Linked DNA regions of Homo sapiens. The protein of the gene in region 5 purifies or fractionates together with the protein of the main gene of each other region. This does not show direct contact. Each region holds a gene or a part of one and is shown on either strand. Other genes may lie near its edges.

Region 1 (4,099 bases), on a different chromosome or scaffold from region 5:
AGCCTTGGCCACCCTTTGGCCCATACGGTCTCTCCTGCCTCCAATCTCCAGACGGGAAGCATCCACACTCCAGCCTTTCACTTACTAGGGGTGTGACCAATGTAAATGATCAGACCCCTCTTAGCCTTCATTTCCTGAACTGCAAAAATGGTCCAACAATAACCATCTCCTTGGGTTGTTATCAAAATGAAATGGGAACTTGCACATGAAGGGTTGAGCGTGGGTCTGGGCAGGCAGGCATCCCACCAATGGCATTCTGCCCCCTACGCAGTTCACTGTTCCACGTTTCATTCTCCCACACGATTTTCTTTTTCCAGAGGATGCATCTTACACTCTTCTCTACCTTCCCTCCTCCCCAAGAACTTGGCTCAAGGCTGAGCAAACTGCATGCTCCAGAAATGCGGTAATATGGCAACTAACAAAGAGGACTCCTTCCAGTGACAGTCTCCGCGGGCCACTCCACCAAGGTGGAGAAAAGATGGATTCCACCATCACGCACCAAGAAGGCACTGCCGCCTCGCTGCCCCTGCCCCGTGCTCTGGGCACACAGGGCTCCCCCATGGTGGTCAGGAAACTGCCCACACGCAGCCCCTGCCCTGCCTGGCATAAGCCTCGCCCCCAGCAGCACTGGCCTGCCACACCCTACCTCCCACATGCATTTCCTGGGCTATTTGGTCTCTGGTGCTGGTGAATTCCTCCCAACAACAACGTAATTCACCAGGTACTAGGGGCTGCCAGCTCTTCGGGCAAGGAATTCGGCCCAGAGGCTCTGAACAGGCTTCCCAGGGTAGGGCCCAGTGGAATTTGGCAGGGCAGGGGCAAGCGCACTCTGTGCAGAGGGCACGGTTCCGAGGGAAGGAACCTGCAGCAGCTCCATCCTCCTCCTGCTCAGCTGCTGCTGGAAGACCTCACACTGCCTGCCACCCAGATCCAAGCCTCCTCAGGGTGTGGTCAATGCAGTGCCAACGGGAAGGGGACCCTCTGAGGCTATTCATCCCTGGACACAGCCCCAGGGAGGGCCAGGCACAGAGACCAGGAGGAGGAGGGACACTCCAGGCGTCCTTGTCCTCCCTGACCGGGCCTCTCACCAGGCACTTCCAGCCCCCTCTATGAAAAGCTCCAGGGGGAAAGGCCGAGTCAGCACTCTGGCCACAACTCTCTCCCAGGGCCTGGCTTTAAAGTGTGCTCTGGAGCTCTGGGAATGGCCATCCTCCCCACCCCTTCCCACCGCCTGCCTCCTGAGGCCCTGCGCAGAGGAGCAGAGGAAGGCAGGAGTGCGAGGAGGTAGGGGAACTGCCTGTGAGGCCGCCCTGCAGTGGGTTAGGGGGTTACCCGGCCTGGTTTGTGTCTGTCCCACATTCAATGCCAGGTGGGCCCAGAATTGCCCCGGGGGTCTCCGGTTGGTGTGAATGTGGGTCACCGTGGCCCCCACCTTTCCCATCTGGCAGATATGTGTCTTGTGCCTACGTCACGCCAGGCCAACCCAGCAAGCACGGGCCAGGCTGGAGGCCCCAGACTCTCCAGGGGGCTGTCTGGTCCTTGCACAAAACTGCAGACACTGCACGGACTGTCCCCATCCCCCAATTAAACAGCCAGCAGGACCAAGCTGGGCCGGGCGATTCCCCCGGTCACTCCAGACACCCCCACCCCCACTCCCCCAGGAAGTGGATCTTTCCTTTCAACTCTTAGATTCTTGGCGAGGGATCTGTCTGTCCCCACACTTCACTGTTACCCCTGAATAAGGAGCAGGAAGAGAATGGCACAGTTTTGGGGTTTTCTGATTTTTGTTTTGTTTCCTGTTCGTTGGGTTTTAAAATCTTTAGCAGCTCTTTTGCCGCTCAAGGTCTGTCCCCTCTGGAGGGCCACTAGTGTGCCCAGAGCTGCCCACGCTACGCAACATCACAGCACGGCGGCGCCCAGCCTGTTGCTGCGTCCCAGTGGCAGGAGCCTCCTCACAGGGCTGCCGAGCTCACGCGGGGCGGATGCCGCGCGCCACAAGCCTCCTTGAAGACTAAGTGTGGAAAAGAAAATATCAACGCCCACGAGATGCAGGGGGCGGGGGGAAGGTGGGGGAAACGAACCCTCGCGGATAGTTGGAAAGCCGTCCTAACGCATCAGTCCTGGGGCAGAGCGAGGAGACTGGGCCCGGGAACTCCCGGACAGAGAGCCCTGGCTCCCCGGGCGCGCCCTGCAGGTCCCCTGCCGAGGACGGGCCGGCGCCGGGTGGTCCGGGAGCGCGGTGCGCGGGGGTCCTCAAGAGCCCACCCGCTTCCTCCTAGGCTGCTGGAGTCCCCCGGGCTCCCCTCCCCCGCCGCCCGCCACATCTGGTTCCACTCAGGTCCTCCCCCACCTCTAGGCGCGCTCCTCCTCCCCTCTCCTCCCCCGCTTTCAGAAAAGCGGAGACGAGTTTTAAAAACCCAGTCACACACACACGCACACACGCTTCTGGAGAAAAGAGGGGGGAAAAGGAGGGAAAAGTCGAGAGCGGCCCGCGCCTCGGCGCTCCCCCCGCCCGGGCCCTGAAGTTGGCCAAGTTGGCAGCGCCTTACCCGGGAGGGCGGCGTCCCCAGGGGCGCCGGGACGGCCGAGGTGCAGGCACCCGAGGAGCAGGACGCAGCGCAGCAGGTGACGAGGCCAGGGCGCGGGGGCCGGCCGGCCGGGCCCCATCCCCGAGCGCGGCGCTCAGTGGACGCGGGGACCGAGGGCGCACAGGCGCAACGCGCTGTGGCAGCCCCGAGGCTGGGCTGTGATGACCGCCCGCAAGGGGCTCGCGTCCTCCTCCGGGTCGGGACGAAGTGATGCCTCCCGGGGAGGAGGAGGGAGGAGGCAGCCCGGGCGGAGGGAGGGCGGAGGGAGGAGCGCAGAACCGGGGAGGAGGGTTCGAGGGGTAGAGGGGAAGGGAAGTGGGCAGCGTGGGAGGGGAAGGGGAGGAGGCGCGGGTCTGGGGCTAGAGCGTCGGGAGGGAGAGAAAGGGGTGGCGGAGAGGAGGACACGCCGGGTCCAGGAGGACCCCAGCGTGCGCCCTTTCTCTTGCTGCTCTGTTTCCCAGTCTCTCCCCGCCTCGCCTTCCCTCTCTTCTGTCCCGGCCAGGATCCCCAGACGCTGCGTCACAACTCCCCCGCTGGCGCGGGCGGGGAAGCAACTGCAAAACTTTCCGCAAACTTCACGGCGTGGTGGGACCTGGGCTACGAGGTCCGGCCAGCCCGGGGCGGGGGCGTGCAGCTGACCCAGGTGGCCAGACCCGGGCCGCCAGCATCCGCCCCGCCATCCCGCCTCTTTCTGCGGGCGTCTCCAGCAGCCTAGCATCCCCTACCTCCATGCCGAGGAGGACCCCTCCCCCGGTCTGGTGGGGAAGGGGCGGAGCCCAGGGCCTGGCCACCAGGGCGAAGATTGGGGGAGGGGGAGGCAGAGCCCTTGTTACGTGTGCGGAGCGCAACAATTCTTGCACGTCTTGTTTTAGCATTTTCGTGACCCCTGTGTCAGTGTTCCCGGTGCAGGAGTGTAGCACTTTTGCTTGTTGGGGCTGCATCCAGAAACCTGGGGAAAATCTGTCCACTGGACGTCTCAGAAGACCGGCATCATCACTCCCACCAACTGGACTGCTGGCCGGTAGCAAAAGACCAGCTGGAAATTTCATAAAAGGTTAGACAATCCACAGTTACTCAGTGTTACGCAACAGGTCTCTGCAGCACAGAGCACGAACTGGGGAGTCAGGATGCTGGAGTCCAGCCCTGCCTCTCTGCGGATTCCCTGCCTGACCTTGGGAAAGCCTCTTGGGGTCTCGGGGCATAGGGCAGGACTGAGACGTTGAGACCCCAAGTGCAAAGAAGACACATTTCTCCTACCACGAGTAATCAAAAACACTATGAAACTGTAATATGGGCCGGGTGCGGTGGCTCACGCCTGTAATCACACTTTCGGAGGCCGAGGAGATTGAGCCCAGGAGTTGAAGACCAGCCTGGGCAACATAGGCAGATCCCATCTCATTTTGTTAATATAAAATTTTTAAATAATAATAAAACTGTAATATAAATTGTATTGTTTCCTATCTTGTCCACCTTGGTATGTTTTTTGGAAATAAATTCAATTTTTTTCCTTT
Region 2 (3,200 bases), on a different chromosome or scaffold from region 5:
CCAAGGCTCCTTTCTGCTTCTGGAACTCTGCCATCTCTGGCTGAAGGGTTACCTTTCTCATGGTGTTTATATTTCACGCCCCCTTCTGAATAGCTGAAGAGGAATTGTAGACACCCCTGGAGATCTTCAGGAAGTCAAACATTAGTGGGTATCTGTCCAGTGTCTTCAGATCCCACCACTGCCCACATGGCCTCAGTTGCCAGCCCCAGGGCTAGGACACGGCAGGCACAGGGCGCAAGACAGAGGATCCCTGTCCTGACCCAAATCTAACCCCTCCTTTCCCCAGGGAACATCAACAATTGCCGGATGGACCTCTACTTCTTCCTGCTGGCTGGCATTCAGGCCGTCACGGCTCTCCTATTTGTCTGGATCGCTGGACGCTATGAGAGGGCGTCCCAGGGCCCAGCCTCCCACAGCCGTTTCAGCAGGGACAGGGGCTGAACAGGCCCTATTCCAGCCCCCTTGCTTCACTCTACCGGACAGACGGCAGCAGTCCCAGCTCTGGTTTCCTTCTCGGTTTATTCTGTTAGAATGAAATGGTTCCCATAAATAAGGGGCATGAGCCCTTCCTCACGACCATGGTCCATGACAAGGGGCAGGGCAGAGGGGGCCTGGATGGGAGTCCTTGTGGGGGACCAGGCAGGGGACTTGGATCAACAAGCACCAGACGAGTGGCGGGGGCAGGCGAGAGGCTCAGTGGGACCTCCACCCTCGTTGCCCCAGCTGGTGGCTGACCAGGTGGCTGTGGAGGGTCAGGAGCTGCCCCGGATCCTCTCCATGTAGTTGCGAAGCTCCTCAGGGTCCTTCAGCCCCATGTCCTCACACACCCAGCGGATGTCCTCCTCGCCTGCCACAAGGATGGACTGCACAGCAGGGGCCCCTACAGGCTCCTCAGGTGACTGGGCTGGAGGGGCTGGCGCAAATGTCACAAACTCTACTCGCTTCCGCCGCCCCCCAGCCTCCTTTCGGGCCAGGGTGCTTGAGGAGCTGGTGGTGCCCCCAGGAGGGCCAGGGGCCAGGGTAGGGGCCTCCCCTCCTCCCCCACTCTCACAGGGGCAGCTCCCCTCCCCCTTGGGCGGGCCAGGGGACTGCCGGTCCAGCTGGCGGCTCAGTTCCTCCTGGTCAGTGCCCAGCCAGACCCAGTTGTGGGGCTGGGGGGAGGTGGGGTCAGTGGCACTGTCGGGAGGTTCTTTGCGCTGATAGCGCAGGACGAAGACCACACCATTGACCAAGAAGATGAAGATGGCCACGCAGAAGACTCCCAGCAGGGCGTACATGCCCAGCTCTAGCTCAGTGACATGCTGAGGGGCAGGGACCATCTCCTCCTCCTCTTCCTCCTCCTCCTCCCTGGCTTCGGTCTCCTCCTTCCTGGCCTCCTCCTCTGCCCGCTCAAACTTGCCCCTCACACCTGTGTTGCCCCCGACACTGCCTGCCACCTGCCGTTTACCACCCATGGTGGCTTCTGTGGCTGGTGGGCTCCAAGCAGGGCTGGATGGGAGAGCAGGGGCTGGAGTGGAGGCAGGGGGCAGCCCCAGCCAGGCGGTGCCAGAGGCCAGAGGCACACGGTGGCGGCCCCGGCGGCAGGGCTCGGGCGGGTGCAGAGCCACATGCAGCGGCAGCCCCTCGGCGCCTGCCCCACTCACCACCACCCCGAGCTGGGCACCCTGCTCCTCAGCTGGCAGGATGGCACCAGGCTCCTCGGCTGAGACGGACAGTCCCAGGTCACGGCGGTCGTAGAGCTCAGCTGGGGCCACAGTGTGATCAGAGAAGGACAGCCATAGGGAGAGGGCCACCTCCTGTGGGGCACACAGACACAGGCAGAGACATGCGAGGGCACGCACGCATGCACAGAGAAACCACTCCCACAGAGATAGGCCACATGGAGGAGAGACCAGAGAGAAAACAGAGACACAGGCAGATAGACAAAACACAGGGAGAGAGGGGACGCGTGTCAATCACCTGTCTGCCACTCAGCCCTAGGGTCTGAGTTATTGGGAGGGTCCTCAGTTAGAGCCATCTAACCAACCTCCCACTGCCATACTCCAGCCACTGCTTGATCACCTCCAGCTGCAGAGAGCTCACTACCTCACAGAGTCAGTCCTCACTCTGAAAACCCTAAGGGGTCGAGGTACCAGGGTCCCTTCCTCCCATTCCCCTCTACCATGAGCCCCCATCTGGAGATGTTGACCTCATCCCCCTGACCCCCCAACTGTCACCTGCTTTGGGGCGGGAAGGGCTGACTGTGCCCAGCACGTAGCTGTGACCTCCCCGGGGTGGGCAGTGCCCCGGCTCAAGGTCAGCGAGATGCCCATCACTGGCTGCACCCTCAGCTCCAGCACTGAGACCTTGTCGTCCGTCACAGCCAGCGCCTGCTCCCCCAGGATGGAGTCAGACAGTGGGGAACGCACCTGAGGGTGGAAAGGAGCTGGAGGTGGGGGGCCTTCCATACAGACAGCCCCCACCCAGAGGGAACCGGGTGCTCCCAGCACCCTCACGGGCTGCCCTCCGGAGGTGGGGGAGGTCTTCGCCACGGACAGCCCCCACCCAGAGGGAACCGGGTACTCCCAGCAGGCTCATGGGCTACTATCCCTCTACTCTTTGCACCCCGGTGCATACCTGGACCCCAATCCCACACCTAGGGGGCAGTTCCCTTTTCCCTCAAGACCCGGTCCCCACACTACCCACACCTCAGCCCTTCATAGCTAGAGGGCTTCCCCCCTTATGCGGCCACCCCATTCTGAGCCTATCCCCAATCCCACTGCACTCAGACCTAGACCGCACAACTCCCCCACACACTCTGGGCTCCTGGCACACTCTTCACTCCCACCCACGAACATTTTGGGGGCCCCTCCACCCTTCTCAGGGGGTCTACTCTCCTGGTCCCCAGCTGCTTACCTCAATGGAGGTGACACCGGGCTCCCGGCCCACCACGACACGGCCACCCTCCAGAGAGGCTACACGCGAGTCCAGCACGCGGGCGTGTGGCGCCACGAGGTGGGACACGTCTAGCAGCCAGTCGGGGCCAAGCAGGTGCGTGAGGCGGCGGCCGCCGTCCAGCGGGTGGGCCGCGAAGGGGGCGAGGAAGCGCACACCGGCCCGCTGGTACTGCAGGTGGCAGCCACGGGCGCGCCGCTCGGCCTCATCCGACGCCTCTGCAGCGGGTTCCGCAGGCCTGCAGGGCGGGGAGGCCGGGACTGGCC
Region 3 (3,500 bases), on a different chromosome or scaffold from region 5:
CCGTGCTGTTCTCATGATAGTGAATGGGTCTCACGAGATCTGATAGTTTTAAAAACGGGAGTTTCTCTGCACAAGCTCTTTTCTGCCTGCTGCTATCCACCTAAGATGTGACTTGCTCCTCCTTGCCTTCTGCCATGATTGTGAGGCTTCTCTAGCCACGTGGAACTGTAAGTCCAATTAAACCTTTTTCTTTTGTAAATTGCCCAGTCTCGGATATGTCTTTATTAGCAGCAAGAAAACAGACTAATACAGCCCTTTAAGAAAAAGTCTATGGAACCCTGTTCTAGGTTAAAACTACTAAAGAGATATAACTGAATACAGTGTGTGCCCTTGGTTGATCACAGAGCAACAAAGTAACCAAATTAAAAGTCATCTTTGGGGCAACTGGATTTCATATTAAATATCATTCAAGTTAATTTTCTTGGCTGTGATAATGGTATGGTCATGCAAGCCATTGTCCTTATAAAGTGTCTATTTCAGTTTTATGACAATATTTGCAATGTGTCACCCCAACCCCTGCCAAAAAAAAAATGTGTGTTTGCCATGTGAAGGGCAGGGAGAGGGCAAGGGAGAGAAAGCAAATACAGCAAATGTCTACAGTGAAACCAGGTGAAAAGTATATGAGCATTCACTGTATTATTTCAGCTTTTCTATAATTCCCAAGACATTTCTAAAATAAAAATTTGCGAGGAAAAGTAACCAGTGTTAGTAAGGGTATATACACTAACGATGGATGTGTAAGTTGCTCTTACAATTTGCTTAAAGGACAATTGGGAGATTTTCTCAAGGGTTTTGAAATACTGCCTGTAGTTTGATAATATTCAAATCCTAAGAGTTCATTCAAAGGAAATAATAAGGCCGGGTGTGGTGACTCACACCTGTAATCCCAGCACTTTGGGAGGCTGAGGCAGGCAGATCACAAGGCCAAGAGACTGAGACCATCCTGGCCAACATGGTAAAACCCCATCTCTACTAAAAATACAAAAATTAGGTGGGCGTGGTGGCATGCGCCTGTAGTCCCAGCTACTCGGGAGGCTGAGGCAGGAGAATCACTTGAACCCAGGAGGCGGAGGTTGCAGTGAACCAAGATTGTACCACTGCACTCCAGCCTGGCAACAGAGAAAGACTCTGTCTCAAAAAAAAAAAAAAAAAAAGGAAATAATAATATATTAATGGACATGCAAAGTCTTTTCTACATAAGGATGTTCATTGCGACATTTATTTATAGAAACCAAAAACTGGAAACAAGTATCCAGCAGTAAGGTACTCAGGAATATAAACTACCCTGTACATCACAAAACTCCAAGGTAACCTAAATATGTCAGGGAGAATATTTAATGGCATGAAAAAATGCTCCTGATGGAGTCTTAAGTAAAAGGTAAGTATATGTACAGTATAAACATATACAGGAGTGGAGAAACACTGGGAAGGTAGACAGAAAAACATTAATATTCCGAGCCATGGGCAGTGGGATTATGGGTGACGTAATTTTTAAATGTTTATCTCTGTTTTATCTACAGTGAAGGTGTATTGCTTTTGTAACCAGGAAAACACGTACATTAACTTTTTTTTTCCAAGGCCAGTGTTACTACTGTGTGTATAATCCTGTAGAGTTTCTGTTGAATGCACTACTGAGCGAGAGGTGGCTCCAGTAGGCTCAATACTGAGCTCAGAATGCCCTTGTGATGGGCCCAGTGACTAGGGAGGGCAGTGGGGAGGCACTGACCTGGCTCTGTGGTGGGAGGACCACCTCATCATAGGGCCCCACGATGGAGCTGGCAAACTTGCTGAAGATGATGGGCTCCTTGGGCACGGGCACGTTCTGTTCTTTGCAGTGGTCCACATAATTCATGCCCACACACACCACCTTATCTGGCCATGTGACTGGAGCCAGGAAGGTTACCTCCGACCATGGTAGGACTGGCAACTGGGCAGCCAAGGCTCTGTAGAGACCAGAGCAGGTGAGAGGGTCTGGCTGGGAACAGGTGGGCAATCCCGGGCAGGCTGGGCAGATCCTGCAGCAGCTACAGGTTTTGCTTTTTGAAATCTATTTCCTAGCTCTATCAACCATCAGAGTCAGTGTGAAAACCACTGACTATTGTCCTTTGCTGTCAGAGCAGGGCTTTTATTTATCCAGTATTGATTTCCTCTCCCCCTTAGGTAACTCATGTCCATGTAAAAGATACAAACTGGAATACATGGAAAGGTCTCCCTTTCCCCTTCTGGTTACCCCGTTCCCCTGGCTCTTCGCAGCTACTCTATGGATATTCTTCTCCCACCCTTTTGTATGTAATGATAGCATACTATTTACATCTTTTAAAAAAACAACTGACTTTGGAGATCTCTGCTTAACAATATGTAACAATACATAGAGAGTGTCCTCTTTATTTCTTGTGGCTGCATATTACTGCTCTATAGAGATATACCCAAGTCCCTAATGAGGGGCATGGAGATTTCCAGTCTTTGCAGAATATGGCAATATGGGAACATACTGTTAATACTGTGAGCTGTGAAACATTTGTATTTTTTTCCATTTTAATAGATGAAAATGACATCTTAAAGTATTTTTAATTTATTGTTCATCAGCTCCTTAGACCAGATTCTATAGGGGTCCAGGCTTCAGGGACACTCTCACCTAATCTAGTCCAAACCCAGGAACCAAGTGTCTTATAGAAAACCTCCTTGCAGTCCTCTCTCCTTGTAGGAGCTGGGAGTCTATATCACTCCCCCAGCTGCATAAGATGCCTTTTAGGACCCCCGGGCCCAGACCCGTCAGTCAGTCCAGGACTTCATTCCCAGAGGAGGCAGTGTGATGAAGTATAGAGTCCTGGTTCCAGCACCACATGTATGGCCTTGAAATTGTTAATCACCTCCCCTAGCTCTCTGTTTTCTCCTCTGAAAACTGAAGATGTTATTATGTAAGATTTCTAAGGATCTTTTAAGAGAACGGGAGAAAAGGAAAGGTGGGGTTACTCTGCTCCCTTGCAAAAGAGCTACCTGCTGGTGCTGTTTCCCAGAGCGGGGAGGGTGCAGGGGGACCAGGGCAGCTGCTTCAGGGCGATGCTGCCCACTTACTTACCTTCTTGCCACTGAGAGGGTGGCCTCTCCCTGCTCTAGGAACTGCGTCATCGTCTTTGGGAGTGTGGGGTCAAAGGCATTGAGGTTGATAACCCCTCCACCATTCCCTGTCTCCAGGCCCAAGTGAGGCCCCACCAGGTGGGGTGCCCGGAACTGCACTAGTCTCATGTCTCTGGAGGGTTGAAAGGGCCACTTCTGAGCCTGCAGCAGAGCTGTGAGTAATCTTCTTCTACCAGACACCAGCATCAGAGCCTGCAGAGAAAAACACAGGATCCAGGAGATGGAGGATCTCAGAGCCATCATCAGCATCCCTGATATTCCTAGGGCTATAGCCCAAGGCCCTTTGCCCCATCAACCGTTCCCTGCATACCACACGGGAAGCGGTCCAGGCTTGTATTTTACCTGCTATACTTCATAAGGTG
Region 4 (3,840 bases), on a different chromosome or scaffold from region 5:
GAGTCTCCTGCTTCGTCTGCGGCCACATCTGGATGGCTGCCGAGGAGACATTCTCAGTGCCCGTCCTGACGAGTGGCTTGGACGCTGCCTCATTGACTCTCTGGGCGTCGGCTGTGTCTCACAGCACCAGGTGACAGCTCTTTCAAGTCAGTCCCAGTCCCTGATAAGCTAGTGGGGGATGAGTGATTGGCCTTCCTCCCAGCAGCACCTTAGAGGCCATTGTTCCCCCTTCCTGGCCACTGGCCGCTCTGTGGGCCCTCCGTTGCTCACCTTTGGCAATCTGAGAACCTGGGGCTATCAAAAGTAGTATCTTGTTAGGAACCCCTAAGCAAGACCAAAGGGTGCTCCTACTCAGCAGTCCTTCTCCCCTGCCCCCCTGCCCTCCACACCTCCCCCGACATCCACACTTCAGTTATGGCAGTGTGGGCATGTCTTAGAGATGGCTAGTCTCCAGAGAAGTGAGGTGATCACTTTTCCAGCCCAGAGAGCTGCCCTGTTTCTTGTGCTGGAGAAGAGTGGAAGAACCCAGAGGTGGCTCATCCTCTCAAACCAAAGTATTGGGAGGATTTTCTGGCTTGTGTCATTCATTCCCTTGAAGAACAATGGGAATCTTTGGGGGAAGAAAGTATCATTATTATTATTTTTAATATGTTATTTCTGTGATGGCTCCTTGCAGAGCAGGGCTAGCCTGTAAGCAATGCACTGAGAGTAGCCGAGAGTGTCCTTAGTTGCCTACTTGCTTTCTACTTTCCAAAATGTGGGCAGTGAAAGAACTGGGGTTAAGCGAGGTGCTGGAAAGGGTGCCTCTTCTGTCCTCTGTTCTAACGCAGCAGTGCTAACAGATGTGAACACTGAGTATGGTTAAGGGCGGTTTGGGACTGGCAGCTCTTGTGTGTGTCATTGATTGGTCTGATTGTCCCTCTAGGGGCAGCAGTATCGCTCATTTGAACTGGCCAAAAATAGGGACCCTGAGAAGGAAGGGAGCTCGGCTTTCCTGAGTGCCTTCGCCGTGCACCCTGTCTCCGAAGGTACCCTCATGTACCGGCTCCACAAACGCTTCAGCGCTCTGGAGTTGGAGCGGGCTTACAGTGAAATAGAACAACTGCAGGTGAGCTGAAGAGGAGCAGGTGGGCAGAGGACCGCAGTCAGAGGGTCAGAGAGAGCCTGAGATGTCCAGGCGTGCAATGAACGAGCAGCTGGCAGTGGGGCTGGGCTAGGCCCTGTATAATGGCAGGGCAGGAAGAGGCCGACCATACTTAAATTTAAAGCAACTACAGGGACAAAGGTCTTTGGGGGTCCAAAGCAATCATAAGGTAAGCTCCCAGCACAACTTGAATGCAGCTAAAGGGGTTTGCAAGTAGACTCTGAGGATCAGGAAGCTCCGCACAGTGTTCAGACAGAATAGTTTTAGCTCCTCCTCAATAGTGCCTGTCCACTGAGGAGGCAAAAACTCTGAAGTTTCTTTACTTCTAGAACTGTCCCAAGAAAGCCCAAGGGTAGAAGGGAGAATTCTCAAGTTGAACGTCAGGCTTGGCAGAGGTGGAGTGTAGATGAAAACAAAGGTGTGATTATGAAGAGGATGTGAGTCCTTTGGGTGTAGGAGAGAAAGGCTGTTGAGCTTCTATTTCAAGATACTTTTACCTGTGCAAAAAGCACATTTTCCACCTCCTTCTCATGGCATTTGTGTAAGGTGAGTATGATTCCTATTCCATCTGCATTTTAGAGGTGAAGAATAACGTACAAGGGATTCAGTGATTAGCAAGGGACCCCTCACTAAGTGTTGATGGAGTTAGGACAGAGCTCAGCTGTTTGAATCTCAGAGCCCAGGCAGCTGGAGCTGGGTAGGATCCTGGAGCTGGCACTAATGTGAGGTGCATTCCCTCCAACCCAGGCTCAGATCCGGAACCTGACCGTGCTGACCCCCGAAGGGGAGGCAGGGCTGAGCTGGCCCGTTGGGCTCCCTGCTCCTTTCACACCACACTCTCGCTTTGAGGTGCTGGGCTGGGACTACTTCACAGAGCAGCACACCTTCTCCTGTGCAGATGGGGCTCCCAAGTGCCCACTACAGGGGGCTAGCAGGGCGGACGTGGGTGATGCGTTGGAGACTGCCCTGGAGCAGCTCAATCGGCGCTATCAGCCCCGCCTGCGCTTCCAGAAGCAGCGACTGCTCAACGGCTATCGGCGCTTCGACCCAGCACGGGGCATGGAGTACACCCTGGACCTGCTGTTGGAATGTGTGACACAGCGTGGGCACCGGCGGGCCCTGGCTCGCAGGGTCAGCCTGCTGCGGCCACTGAGCCGGGTGGAAATCCTACCTATGCCCTATGTCACTGAGGCCACCCGAGTGCAGCTGGTGCTGCCACTCCTGGTGGCTGAAGCTGCTGCAGCCCCGGCTTTCCTCGAGGCCTTTGCAGCCAATGTCCTGGAGCCACGAGAACATGCATTGCTCACCCTGTTGCTGGTCTACGGGCCACGAGAAGGTGGCCGTGGAGCTCCAGACCCATTTCTTGGGGTGAAGGCTGCAGCAGCGGAGTTAGAGCGACGGTACCCTGGGACGAGGCTGGCCTGGCTCGCTGTGCGAGCAGAGGCCCCTTCCCAGGTGCGACTCATGGACGTGGTCTCGAAGAAGCACCCTGTGGACACTCTCTTCTTCCTTACCACCGTGTGGACAAGGCCTGGGCCCGAAGTCCTCAACCGCTGTCGCATGAATGCCATCTCTGGCTGGCAGGCCTTCTTTCCAGTCCATTTCCAGGAGTTCAATCCTGCCCTGTCACCACAGAGATCACCCCCAGGGCCCCCGGGGGCTGGCCCTGACCCCCCCTCCCCTCCTGGTGCTGACCCCTCCCGGGGGGCTCCTATAGGGGGGAGATTTGACCGGCAGGCTTCTGCGGAGGGCTGCTTCTACAACGCTGACTACCTGGCGGCCCGAGCCCGGCTGGCAGGTGAACTGGCAGGCCAGGAAGAGGAGGAAGCCCTGGAGGGGCTGGAGGTGATGGATGTTTTCCTCCGGTTCTCAGGGCTCCACCTCTTTCGGGCCGTAGAGCCAGGGCTGGTGCAGAAGTTCTCCCTGCGAGACTGCAGCCCACGGCTCAGTGAAGAACTCTACCACCGCTGCCGCCTCAGCAACCTGGAGGGGCTAGGGGGCCGTGCCCAGCTGGCTATGGCTCTCTTTGAGCAGGAGCAGGCCAATAGCACTTAGCCCGCCTGGGGGCCCTAACCTCATTACCTTTCCTTTGTCTGCCTCAGCCCCAGGAAGGGCAAGGCAAGATGGTGGACAGATAGAGAATTGTTGCTGTATTTTTTAAATATGAAAATGTTATTAAACATGTCTTCTGCCAAACTGTTTTTAGGTCTAGGGAAAATTGAGTAAGGAGAAGAATCCAAGGGAAGGGAATGGGGAGTCGTCCCGAGGGACCCACTGCCTCCCCACCTTCTTCCCTTCCCCTTCTCTCCCCCTCCCCTCCCCAGTTTCCAATGACCACACGGCTGCTGTCAGATGAATGACTTTTAATCCAGCCCCACACCCCAAGGTGGCAGAGGAGTGATGCTGGAGCCCGGGGCAAAATGCTGGGGCCCGGGACACGGCTGAAAGTTCCGTCGTGCTGCTTATTTTTGGGCTCCTAGGTGTTGCGCACAACCAGCGACTGCTCCAGCTCCTGCCTGCGCTGCTGGATCTTTAGAGGAAGTGAGAACAGGAGCAGGTGTCAGTGTTCTGGTGAGTGATCAGGACAATCCCACCTACTGACACCGCCTGCCCTGAAAGAGCATCTGGGAGCAGGGAGGGCCATTGCATGGTGAGGCAGCGTGGTGAAGCTTTACTGTGGGGAGCTGCGAGGGCTG
Region 5 (4,079 bases):
CAGCTACTCGAGAAGCTGAATTGCTTGAACCTGGGAGGCGGAGTTTGCAGTGAGCAGAGATGGCACTCCAGCCTGGGTCACAAGAGTGAAACTACATCTCAAAAAAAAAAAAAAAAAAAATTAGCCGGGTGTGGTGGTGCATGCCTGTAGTCCCAGCTGCTTGGGAGGTTGAGGCAGGAGGATCACTTGAGCTGGGAGGTTGAGACTACAGTGAGCTGTGATTGCATGACTGTACTTCAGCCTTGGTGATGGAGCAAGACCTTGTCTCCAAAAATTATATATATATCCTAAGACATCTCCCATGATGATACATTAATTTCATTCAACAAGTATTTGTTCAATCTGCTGTTCCAAGTTTAATATTGAGTACTGGGAAGGCAATAATGAGGAAATACAGTCAGGCGGGGAGTCAGATTCTTCATCCTACAATTATGTAAACAAGTGTCAAGCCCCTGCCATGACAAGCGCCATGTGGGAGAGTAACAGGGTGCTCCACAGCCCTGAGTGGGAGCGTTGCTGAGTCAGGAGGCCCAGCCATCCACGTTTCATCTTCCTTCCAGGCCTTGCGTTTGCTGCTCCGTTTGGAGCACTGCCCAAGCGTTGTCTTAGCTCCTGCTGCGGGGGAAACTGCATGGATAACCTGGGGTGGGGGCAGTGTCTACAGAGGAAAGGACTTGAAAATGCACTTCTCCCGAACTAGGTGATGTTTTCTGTGTGTGTGGCCCTTCTTCACAGTGGCCTCCTAGAAAAACAAGACCCTGACTCAAAGAATACCTCTCATTACAGTAAGACTGTTTGGAATGCTTTACTTTTTTAAAAATTTAATTTAATTGTTTAATGTGGTAAAAAAAATATATAACATAAAACTAACCAGCTTAACCATCTTAAGGGCACAGTTCAGTGGCATTAAGTACATTCTCTTTGTTGTGCAACCATCACCACCACCCATCTCCAGAACTCTTTTAAAATCTTCCCAAACTCTGTACCCATCAAACAACTCCCATTTCCTTCTCTCTTCACCTCTGGCAACCATCATCCTACTTTTTCTTTATATGAGTTTGACGGCTCTAGGAACCTCTTATAACTGAAGTTATCCAGGTCTGTCTGTTTGTGACTAGCTAGTTTCACTTAGCATAATGTTCTCGAGGTCCATTCATGTAACACATGTCAGAATTTCTTTTCTTTCTAAGGCTGAAGAATATTCCATTGTATGGACCTACCACATTGCATGTATCTGTTTATCCACTGAGGGACCCTTGGGTTGCTATGGAAAATAATGCAACTACGAACATGGACATCTGTTCTAGTCCTTGCTTTCAATTATTTTGTGTAGATGCACAGCAGTGGAATTGCTGGATCAGATGGTAATGCTATGTTTGCTTCACTATTTGTCATGTGCCTTTATGCATATTGTGATAAAATTTGATTTTTACAATAGTCCTGTGAGATAAGTAAGCATTGGTCTGTGGTTAAGAGAAGTGATTTCTTCAAAGTGAAATGATGAACGGAAGAGTATCCTGACCTTAAACTTGGCTTTTTTTTATTGCCCGTTCAGCTTGAAGAGTGGTTCCAATCACAAGTGTTACCTTCCAAGGACAATGTCATCCTGGTAATAACCAGCTTGCTCCCCTGCCCTGAGTCTTCTGCCAAGTCTGTCCAGGTGTGGGTCTGGGGCAGGGGACAGCTCATCCATTTCCCACTGCACAGAACGGAGGCTGTGTCCAGGGCCCCAGCAACAAAGGTTTCTCCTCTGGGTTTCTGTTTCCCTCTTTCAGTTCAGTCTGTCATCTGAACCATGAGGATCTGGTGGCTTCTGCTTGCCATTGAAATCTGCACAGGGAACATAAACTCACAGGACACCTGCAGGCAAGGGCACCCTGGAATCCCTGGGAACCCCGGTCACAATGGTCTGCCTGGAAGAGATGGACGAGACGGAGCGAAGGGTGACAAAGGCGATGCAGGTACTCACCTGACGGCTTCGGCTGCCTTTGAGCTTCTCTCTTCATTACTTTCATCTCATTCACTCATCATCTGTGTGGTTTTCCACCTACCCACTCACAACCCATCCATCCATCCACCCAGCAACATTCACTGGAGCCTGACCCCATTCATCCATCCACCCATCTGCCCAGCAACACTCACGGGGTCTGCTCCATGCCAGACTCTGTGCCAGGTGCTGGTGGAGAGCACAGGGCCAGATCGCCATGACCCCTGCCCTCCTGGGTTCTCTCATCTCTGACACCGCAGGACATTTTCAGTAGTATACAATGTCATGGATCCTCCCACCTCAGGTGACAGGTATGTTGGATTTTTGGCAACACGAGGCCAATAGAGAGATCTGATCATGAATTATTTGGCAGCAAGCACCCAGCTGCAGTGCAGGTGAGAGCTAATACCATATCATGTCATGAAGCAGGAGATGCGGAGTGACAGATGACACATACAGCTGCTGCTTATGAATCTATGACCTAGGCAGGGTCTGGGGATCTGGGGACAGAATCCATCCTCTGGGAGGGAGATTTGCCAAAGCCTGGAAGTCTGAGTGCTTTCCATAACAACAACCAATAGACTTGGTTTCTGAATGGGGTACCATTCTTGAGGCCTGGTCTTGACCATAGGGTCACATATCTAAGACTTATGCAGAATGATTCACTGGGTTAAGAGCACAGTTCAGTGGCATTAGAAAGAAAATATCAAAACTTCTATGGACCTTTTTACAAATAAGTTTGTGTTTCTAACATGTCTCACTTTATGGCATTTGGTGGCCTGATAGTTTTTTGAATGGGCTGGATGAAGCCAAGGGTCACCAGGAAGCAACTTTATTTCTTTCTAACCGGCACATCTGCTCTGTGAGGTGTCTTCTCCTGGCTCCTCACATCTCCAGCTCATTGAGACTGTTCCAGTCCCCCGGTAGCAAATAGCCCAGTCCAAATGAATACTAAAACCTTACCCTTAATGAAATCAGGTCTTCTGCCCTCACACTGTGACCACAGTGGTGTGTGTGTGTGTGTGTGTGTGTGTGTGTATGTCTGTGTCTGTGTGTATTTTATTTCTGAATGTTTAGGATTTTCATTTTTTAAATTTTTGTTATAAAATATTACACATAAAAGGAGATAAATAGGTGATACAAAATACAGAGAACTAAGACAAACACTTCTATATTCAATACCAAATTTCTCTACCTCTTCCGTGTTGAATTTCTCTCCTCTGCTCACCAATGTCCATTCTTTCAAGTTTTACATACTTCTTAGAAGCAAATGTTATATCTATTTTTTCTATGTAATTCATAAGTATTATTTGTAATATATATTCTTTCTTAGAAGGACATTCAATCACATTGCTCACACTAAAAATTTACTTCATTTTTATCTTACCATCTTAAAGTGTATTTTTGTGTATGTTTTATACCAAACATATTTTTCATATACTACCTGTGCATAATGTAGAAACATATAAATGTCTACTGATTGGGGTCTGTGTTCATGCTTTGTGAGTTGTGGTGCGTGATCATGAAAGCTCAGAGGCCACTGCTCTAGAGAATGGGAGAAACGAGAGCCAAGCAGGGGAACAAAAAGAGGGAAGGAGAGGAAGACACAGGGGAGCAGCCAGTAGAGGGGAGGGAAGGGGAGCGCAGGGAGGGGCAAATGTAGGGATAAGCCCCCTCCATTCAGAGGTCCCACGCTGACCAAGGCCCCACTCAGGAGCGCTGGTGTCCCAGGAGAACAGACATCGTGACAGAAATAAGTCTGCCTGTGTCAGTCCTGTCTCAGGACCTGCAAGCCGGCCCAGCCTGCGCCTGTCGCCCCACAGCCACGTCAGTGGGTCTGAAGTATGGGAGTCTCTGCTGCTTTGTGAGAAGCCAGAGTCTGGGGTGAGCTGTGGCCCAATGAGCACTCTACTGCCATAGCCAGAGCCACCTTCAACCCGCTGACGGATAGCACGCCGACCTGGAGCTCAGGGGGGCCTGTTCTGAGCACAAGGACTTGAGTGTAGTCAGCAGAGCCCCACTCACCTGATGTTCTCTGCCAGCTCGATTAGTAGCATTTCCCCCAGTGTAAGGCACTAGAGGGATCCCTCCA
Region 6 (3,054 bases), on a different chromosome or scaffold from region 5:
GTGCAGCAGGTGCTCCATGAATAACCCCTGAACGACGGAATGAACAAGTCAATAAATGAATAAAGGCTGGCAACCAGCCAGGCAGCCATGCCATTCTCCATCCAGGCTCTGGAGCAACAGAAAGTGACCACTCTTTACTAACAGGTTGGCCGGCCAGGCTGGAGCTAGCAAGGTGGCCTTGGCGGTGTTACTGCCAAGCCCCCGCATCAAGGCACCACACTCAGAGGCAGGCGGGGGCTGCCTGGAGAAGGCCACGGATTGGCCGGACCCTACCCTACGACCCAGGACACCTGGAGGAAGGGAAGCAGAGGCCAGTGGCCGCTGGAGACAGCAGTCAGAGGGCGCCAAGCAGAGGCCGCCTGCTGGTGAGCGGTACCCCACCCAGACTGCTCCACTCACAGCGCGGGGGTCCCCTGTGGCTGGCACAAAGGCCCCTCTACTTGACTGCCAGGGCCTGGGGCTCCCCCTGGGTTCATCTTTGCTCACACGCTCCTCACACAGTGCAAGTAATGGGCTGAGTGTGCAAAATGAGCAATGGAAGTAGTTTAAGGACCTCAAGTGAAGCCCCAAGAATCCCTGCCTGGGCTGTGCCATCCACCTCCAGGCTGGCTGCAGCCGAGGAGCCAGGCAGAGGGTCGGAACTGCATCTCTGTGATACCTGGTTTGTGAAGAAAGATGCTGAGGGTCAAAGCTGACCCCAGCAGAGAGGACTGTCTCAGGAGGGAAGGAGGGGTGGGAGGGAACCCATCAGGGAGCCCGTCACTGGACAGGCTCACACACAGCTGCTCTCACTCGAATCCCAGCATCGCAGCGCAAACAGGCCCGAGGAGGCGTCCACCCAGTCTCCAAGCACGAGGGTCCTCTCTAGCCAGACAAGCCCTGAAATCAGAGCCGTGGGGCCCCACAAGAGTCAGCTCAGAGGGAGGTAAAAGAAATCACAGGGGCTGGGCACGACGGCTCACGCCTGTAATCCCAACACTTTGAGAGGCTGAGGCGGGCAGATCACGAGGTCAGGAGTTCAAGACCAGCCTGGCCAACATGGTGAAACCCACTCTCTACTGAAAATACAAAAATCAGCTGGGCGTGGTGGCGGGCGCCTGTAATCTCAGCTACTCGGGAGGCTGAGGCAGGAGAATCGCTTGAAACTGGAAGGCAGAGGTTGCACTGAGCCGAGATCACACCGCTGCACTCTAGCCTGGGCGACAGAGCGAGACCCCATCTCAGAAAGAACGCAAGAAAGAAAGCAAGAAAGCAAAAAAGCAAGCAAGCAAGAAAGCAGGAAAGCAAGCAAGAAAGCAAGCAAGCGAGCAAGTAAGCAAGAAACGAAGGAAGAAAGCAAGAAAGAAATCACACCTAGGGCCCCATCCTGGCCCCTGGCCCTGGAGCTCACCCTTCAGGGCCACGCGGTTCCGGCGGATGGCCATGATGGCATTGCGAATGTCCTCTTCATCAGCATTGGAACTCACGTGCACCTCTTCAAAGTCCACTGGTACACATGCGTGCCTGAGGCACGGCAGGGTCAGGGAGGCTGGCCCAGACCCCCCCGCACCTCCTCCAGGAAGCCTGCCCAGGCTACCTCTCTCCTGTTGCTACCTGCCCTGACCTGGCTCTGACTGAGAAGGGACTGGGCCCACCTTCACTGACTGATGGGGACACGCTTGAACTCCACAATGCACACTGTGGCAGGACTGGTGCCACCTTCCCCGAGCCCAGGCCAGTCTGGCGGGATCACAGGCCATGGGACGCAAGGCCTGGGCTTACAGGTCGTCTTGCCATGGCCTCACCGAGTGCTTCTGGGCGCAATGCCCCTCTTGGCACAAAGTCCTCAGGGCCCCCTGGCTGAGGACAAGGCGGGGACCCAGGAGCTCCATACCTGAAGACGGACTTGACATGCAGCATGAGCTCTGGCCCGATGCCATCCCCTGGGATCATGGTCACCGTGTGCCGCCCGCCATACTTAGCGGACGGAGGCTGTGGGAGGCAGAGGGTGAAGGTGGGCCTTCGGGGATCCCACATGCCCCCAGCTCGGCCCCCATGGGCTCAAGCCAATTCCCTTCTTCCCACTGGCGCTGACCCCACAGGCTGCCCCGTCACAAGGTGCCAACTTGGGGCAGCCCCGTCCCAGACAGGGCTGCTCATCCAGGGCTCCTGGGTCAGCAGCAGCCCACCCCCACCTGGAATTTAGTTAACCCCAAAGCAACTAAGAGCCCCCCAAACCTAACAGGCAGAGAAGAATACTCACAATTGTTTGTTCCTAGAAAGGATGAGAAAGGAAGAAGACACAATCAGCCAAGGTTCCAAGAGCAAGGCCGTGACCAGGAAAGTGGGACCTTTTCCCAGGGGGATGCTGGCTAGTACAACTCCCAGAAGAGGGGTGGGTAGCCCCTGGAGACCACGTCTCAGAGGACAGGACACAGGCCGTGCACACACGCGCACAATTGCGGCCACATGGAGAAAGACACATGCGTGGGCACGGGCAGGTACTTACTGAAAAGATGTTCCTCGAGGGGACCTCGTGGGCGCCTAGAACCTGGCAGAGACCAAATGCCAGCGGTTGGTTTGATGTCTAACCCAGAAAGCCAAGTTGGAAGGAAAAACGGACCGTCCCCACTGTGCCCAGGCAGGTCCCCTGTCTGTGCAGCATGGCCCACTGCCAGGGGCACAATAGATAATTAGCTCCAAAGCCTCAGTCCCCAGGGCCGGCCCGCTGGAGCACCTGGAAAGTAGAAGGCGCTCCAGCCTCCTGCCTCCTTCCGCTCTTCAGAAAATTTCTTAAAAGGCGTGTCCCTGCCCTCCCTCCTCTTTTTTGCTTCTGATTATTTTTTTGGCCAGTTATTCCCGCTCAGCGATGTTTGTAACATGCAAAAACTGGCAAACTAACCCTGGTACAGCAGGGAAATCATTACAACAAACCACAGATCCATGACAACAGTCACGTTATCACTTCGCCGATCACTTTTTCTTATTACAAAAGCAGCATGTGGTCGCTACAGAAAAAGCAGAATAGGGAGATAAGAAGGTAGCACCCAGCCTCCGGCCTCCCTGAGACAAGCA
Region 7 (3,500 bases), on a different chromosome or scaffold from region 5:
TAATTATTATTATTATTATTTTGAGACAGGGTCTTGCTCTGTTGCCCAGACTGGACTGCAGTGGCGTGATCATGGCTCACTGCAGCCTCGACCTCCAGGGCTCAAGCGATCCTCCCACCTCAGCTTCCCAAGTAGCGGGGACTGCAGGCACATGCCACCACACCCAGCTATTTTTTTTTATTGTTTGTTGAGACAGGGTCTCACTATGTTGCCCAGGCTGGTCTTGAACTTCTGGGCTCAAGCGGTCCACTTGCCTCGGCCTCCCAGAGTGCTAGGATTACAGGCAGGAGGCACTGCACCTGGCCAGAAAAAACTATTCTTGACTTCACATTTTCCACCAGCTTCACCCCTGCCCCTTTGCTTCTCTTTGCAGCAAAACTTCAAAAAGCATAGTCCACGCTCTCCCCCAGGCATTCTTGGGTCTCTCTACCCAGGATTTTGCTCCCCCATCGCCACATCTCCTTTTGCCAAGGGCACCAGAGGCCTCCGTGTTGTTGGATCCAGCGGTCGGCTCTCAGCCTCCTCTTAACTGCTCAGTGGCACTGGTGCCGCCAAGCAACCCTTCCTCCAAGAGAGCCACAGGCTCTGGGATACTTCACTCTGGGGTTCCTCCTACCTCACAGACTCTCCTGGCTGGTCCTCCTCTTCTCCCCAACATCTTATGGCCAGGTCTCCAGGCTCTTTTCTGTCTACAGGCACTCTCCATGAGTCCTTATTCAGTCTCCTGGCCTCAAATGCCAGCTGTGCTGAGACCCCCTTATTTGTAGCTCCAGCCTAGCCTGCTCTCCCCTGAACCCCAGACTCATGTTTCCAGCTACCTCTGCCGATATCTAATAGACACCTCAAACTCAACCTGCCCCGGCTGCACTCCCGATCGGCCCCCACCTCCTACAGTCATCCTGCTTCAGAGACTATAGCTCCGTTTTCAAGGGCTCAGGCCACACCCTTGGAACCACCCTTGCATCCTCTCTTTCCCTCAAACCACCGCATCTCTCACCTGGATTATCGTAACAGCTTCCTGTGTCCCAGCTGCAGTCCCCCGCCCATTACATTTTGTTCCTAACACAGCAGCCAGAGTGAGCCTTTTGAAAGGGAAGATTATGGGGCTCTTTGGCTCACATAGTGCAGTGTCTCCCCATCTGACCACTAAGGCCTGGCTGTGACCATATCACCCCTGCGACCTCAACTCCCCTCACCTCCACTCCAGACACACCTGCTGTTCTATGGTGCTGCCTGCAGTTCAACACCAAAGAATATTCTTCGCTCCAGGAAGAAAAACGGTTTTCTCCACCTCCAATCACAATGTGTTCTTTTGGCCTATCTTTTGCTCCCCACCCACCCTTTTTTTTGAGACGGAGTCTTGCTCTGTCGCCCAGGCTGGAATGCAGTGGCACGATCTTGGCTCACTGCAACCTCCACCTCCACCTCCCGGGTTCAAGCGATTCCCCTGCCTCAGCCTCCTGAGTAGCTGGGACTATAAATGCGTGCCACCACGCCCAGCTCATTTTTTGTATTTTAGTAGAGATGGGGTTTCACCATGTTAGCCAGGATAGTTTCGATCTCTTGACCTCGTGATCCACCCGCCTTGGCCTCCCAAAGTGCTGGGATTACAGCTGTGAGCCACCGCGCCCGGCCTTATTTTCCCCTTTTAGGAAACACTGGGAACTATTTTCTTCTCAGAGAAAAACAGGACTTGCCCAATAGTAACATGGAAACTTAACAGGGTCTTAACCTGTGAAGACTCTAGGAGCAGAACCCGGAGTAAGGGGGAGCAGGGGCCGGAGTAAGGGGAGCAGGGCCCCGTCTAAGATGGGGCAGGGCCTGGGCTAAGGGAGAGCAGGGCCGGGCTAAGGGGAGGCAGGGCCCAGTCTGAGGTGGGGGCAGGGCCTGGTCTAAGGGGAGCAGAGCCTGGGCTAAAGGGCAGCTGAGCCCAGTCTGAAGGAGAGCCGAGCTATCTGAATAGGGGCTAGCACCTGTTCTAAAGGAAGTGGCTGCTCCCCTGCTTTCGCTGTAAGAGGGAACACAGGCCTTTTAAGAAAATGGGAATCAAGTTTTTTGTTTAATTTCCCAAAGGTTATATGTTGACAATTAACTTCAAAGTATTAGCTGCTTTTTGTAGGCCAAATAAACACGTCTGTGGGCCAGATCTGGCCCAGGACTAGAGTTGCCAGTGGCAACTTCTGGCCCAGGCTGAATGGTGGGCAGGAAGGAAATGGAGCCCCCAGGAGTGGGAGTGGGAGCTGATGCCTGGGTACGGGAGCTCTGTGGGTGGGAGTGAGACAAAAAACAGGGTCTTGAGCTCTGGGGAGCAAGCAGTGTCCTCCAGTGAAGGAAATCCTGGACTCGCAGGCAGAAGTTTTGCCTCTTACTCGCCATGTGCTCTGAATAAAGTTACCTGCCCTCCACGAGCCTGTTTCCTTATCTGAAAAATGGGGACACCTGACCCCTTCCCTGCCCAGTTTAGTGTTGTGGGACAGGGCTGCTGTCAAGACAATACCCAGTCCTGCCCTCCTCCCAGAGTGGGCCAGGGTAGCCCACGTAGCCTCTTCCCTGCTTTCCTGGGTGGCACTGCCAGCCTGACCCCCTGGTGTCCATTCAGTCTAGTCCTTCATATTTCTGGGGCACGGGGAAGCTCTGAGTAACGTGGGACTATAAAGTGCAAGAGGGTTGCTGATGGCCTGGTCCCGTGCCCTCTCCATTCCTGGGCATTCTTGACAAAGGCTCCCAGCAACTGAGGGTACGCAGCAGCTGCAGACACCAGCCTGACAAATATCTCATTGTGGGGAGGGGGCCATAGCAGGAGTGGGGAGCCAGGGAAATACAGAACCTGGGACTGGGAGGTGTTGATGTGAGAAGCCCAAGAAACTTCATTCCACCTGTCAAAGCCACCTCCTTCCAGATGCCCAAATCTGAGCCACTTGCTGGGCAGGGACTTTGCCTTTGCACTTGCTGAATACCATCTGCACCTCTCAGGAGGGAGAGTGCCAGGCTCAGGAGTCCCTGCCGAGCTAGGAAAGGGGGCTGGGGTGGGCTCTGCCATTTTTTGAAGGCTGGCAGGGGGACCCCTCAGGAGGTACTTGGGGCAGTACCATATGCTGTGGCTCCTGAGTGAGAGTCAGCTCTGCGCCCCACAAGACCACTCCCTACCCAGAATTCACTGTCATCATGTGCTGGGTCCAGATGCCCATGCAGCCTCCTGGCGGGAGCATCACATGTGCCGCCTGCCTGGGATGGCCCATGGAAGAGTCTGCCCCGCTCTGCCCTGCTATGGAACAACTCCTGTTCTGTCTTCAGCGAGTGGTGTTCATTTAAGTGATGACTGGGCTGGCCCCCATGGCACAGTTATCACAGAGAGTCTGCTGCTACCCATGGCTGAGAGCTCTAATTCTTCCTGGTGGTCTCTGAAGCCACCAGGACGGATGAACAGCAGCTTCACCCTCTTGGCTGACTCAGCTGCCTTTCATCAGCTCATCTGCCCCTAGGATCCACTCTGCCTCTGG

Evidence for each region.
Region 1: the proteins of C1QTNF9B (region 5) and MRC2 purify together in Homo sapiens (affinity purification with mass spectrometry; one large-scale study listed by BioGRID and IntAct). This does not show direct contact.
Region 2: the proteins of C1QTNF9B (region 5) and TMEM132A purify together in Homo sapiens (co-immunoprecipitation; 2 studies listed by BioGRID and IntAct, with this or other methods). This does not show direct contact.
Region 3: the proteins of C1QTNF9B (region 5) and FAHD2B purify together in Homo sapiens (co-immunoprecipitation; one large-scale study listed by IntAct). This does not show direct contact.
Region 4: the proteins of C1QTNF9B (region 5) and CHPF2 purify together in Homo sapiens (co-immunoprecipitation; one large-scale study listed by IntAct). This does not show direct contact.
Region 6: the proteins of C1QTNF9B (region 5) and IDH3G purify together in Homo sapiens (co-immunoprecipitation; one large-scale study listed by IntAct). This does not show direct contact.
Region 7: the proteins of C1QTNF9B (region 5) and CSPG4 purify together in Homo sapiens (affinity purification with mass spectrometry; one large-scale study listed by BioGRID and IntAct). This does not show direct contact.

Annotation. Positions count from the first base shown.
Region 1 is NC_000017.11:62,626,371-62,630,469, reverse strand, and holds the start of MRC2 (C-type mannose receptor 2 precursor), read right to left. Parts: upstream 2,801-4,099; 5' UTR 2,668-2,800; coding exon 2,550-2,667; exon of another isoform or gene 2,420-2,549; intron 1-2,419. UniProt on the Homo sapiens protein: May play a role as endocytotic lectin receptor displaying calcium-dependent lectin activity. Internalizes glycosylated ligands from the extracellular space for release in an endosomal compartment via clathrin-mediated endocytosis.
Region 2 is NC_000011.10:60,934,460-60,937,659, reverse strand, and holds the end of TMEM132A (transmembrane protein 132A isoform b precursor), read right to left. Parts: intron 3,173-3,200; coding exon 2,896-3,172; intron 2,409-2,895; coding exon 2,217-2,408; intron 1,797-2,216; coding exon 753-1,796; 3' UTR 501-752; downstream 1-500. Other genes in the region: SLC15A3 (solute carrier family 15 member 3), read left to right, coding at 287-441. UniProt on the Homo sapiens protein: May play a role in embryonic and postnatal development of the brain. Increased resistance to cell death induced by serum starvation in cultured cells. Regulates cAMP-induced GFAP gene expression via STAT3 phosphorylation.
Region 3 is NC_000002.12:97,088,383-97,091,882, forward strand, and holds part of FAHD2B (oxaloacetate tautomerase FAHD2B, mitochondrial), read right to left. Parts: 5' UTR 3,481-3,500; intron 3,331-3,480; 5' UTR 3,325-3,330; coding exon 3,080-3,324; intron 1,944-3,079; coding exon 1,727-1,943; coding exon of another isoform or gene 1,670-1,726; exon of another isoform or gene 1,194-1,669; intron 1-1,193. UniProt on the Homo sapiens protein: Tautomerase that converts enol-oxaloacetate, a strong inhibitor of succinate dehydrogenase, to the physiological keto form of oxaloacetate. It is thereby required to maximize aerobic respiration efficiency by preventing succinate dehydrogenase inhibition.
Region 4 is NC_000007.14:151,235,483-151,239,322, forward strand, and holds the end of CHPF2 (chondroitin sulfate glucuronyltransferase), read left to right. Parts: coding exon 1-130; intron 131-925; coding exon 926-1,108; intron 1,109-1,473; exon of another isoform or gene 1,474-1,690; intron 1,691-1,891; coding exon 1,892-3,199; 3' UTR 3,200-3,340; downstream 3,341-3,840. Other genes in the region: SMARCD3 (SWI/SNF-related matrix-associated actin-dependent regulator of chromatin subfamily D member 3), read right to left, coding at 3,621-3,674. UniProt on the Homo sapiens protein: Transfers glucuronic acid (GlcUA) from UDP-GlcUA to N-acetylgalactosamine residues on the non-reducing end of the elongating chondroitin polymer. Has no N-acetylgalactosaminyltransferase activity.
Region 5 is NC_000013.11:23,894,703-23,898,781, reverse strand, and holds the start of C1QTNF9B (complement C1q and tumor necrosis factor-related protein 9B precursor), read left to right. Parts: upstream 1-1,279; 5' UTR 1,280-1,364; intron 1,365-1,555; 5' UTR 1,556-1,660; intron 1,661-1,775; 5' UTR 1,776-1,795; coding exon 1,796-1,961; intron 1,962-4,079. UniProt on the Homo sapiens protein: Probable adipokine. Activates AMPK, AKT, and p44/42 MAPK signaling pathways.
Region 6 is NC_000023.11:153,788,322-153,791,375, forward strand, and holds part of IDH3G (isocitrate dehydrogenase [NAD] subunit gamma, mitochondrial isoform a precursor), read right to left. Parts: intron 2,531-3,054; coding exon 2,489-2,530; intron 2,255-2,488; coding exon 2,243-2,254; intron 1,972-2,242; coding exon 1,874-1,971; intron 1,504-1,873; coding exon 1,391-1,503; intron 1-1,390. UniProt on the Homo sapiens protein: Regulatory subunit which plays a role in the allosteric regulation of the enzyme catalyzing the decarboxylation of isocitrate (ICT) into alpha-ketoglutarate.
Region 7 is NC_000015.10:75,678,349-75,681,848, forward strand, and holds part of CSPG4 (chondroitin sulfate proteoglycan 4 precursor), read right to left. Parts: intron 1-3,500. UniProt on the Homo sapiens protein: Proteoglycan playing a role in cell proliferation and migration which stimulates endothelial cells motility during microvascular morphogenesis. May also inhibit neurite outgrowth and growth cone collapse during axon regeneration.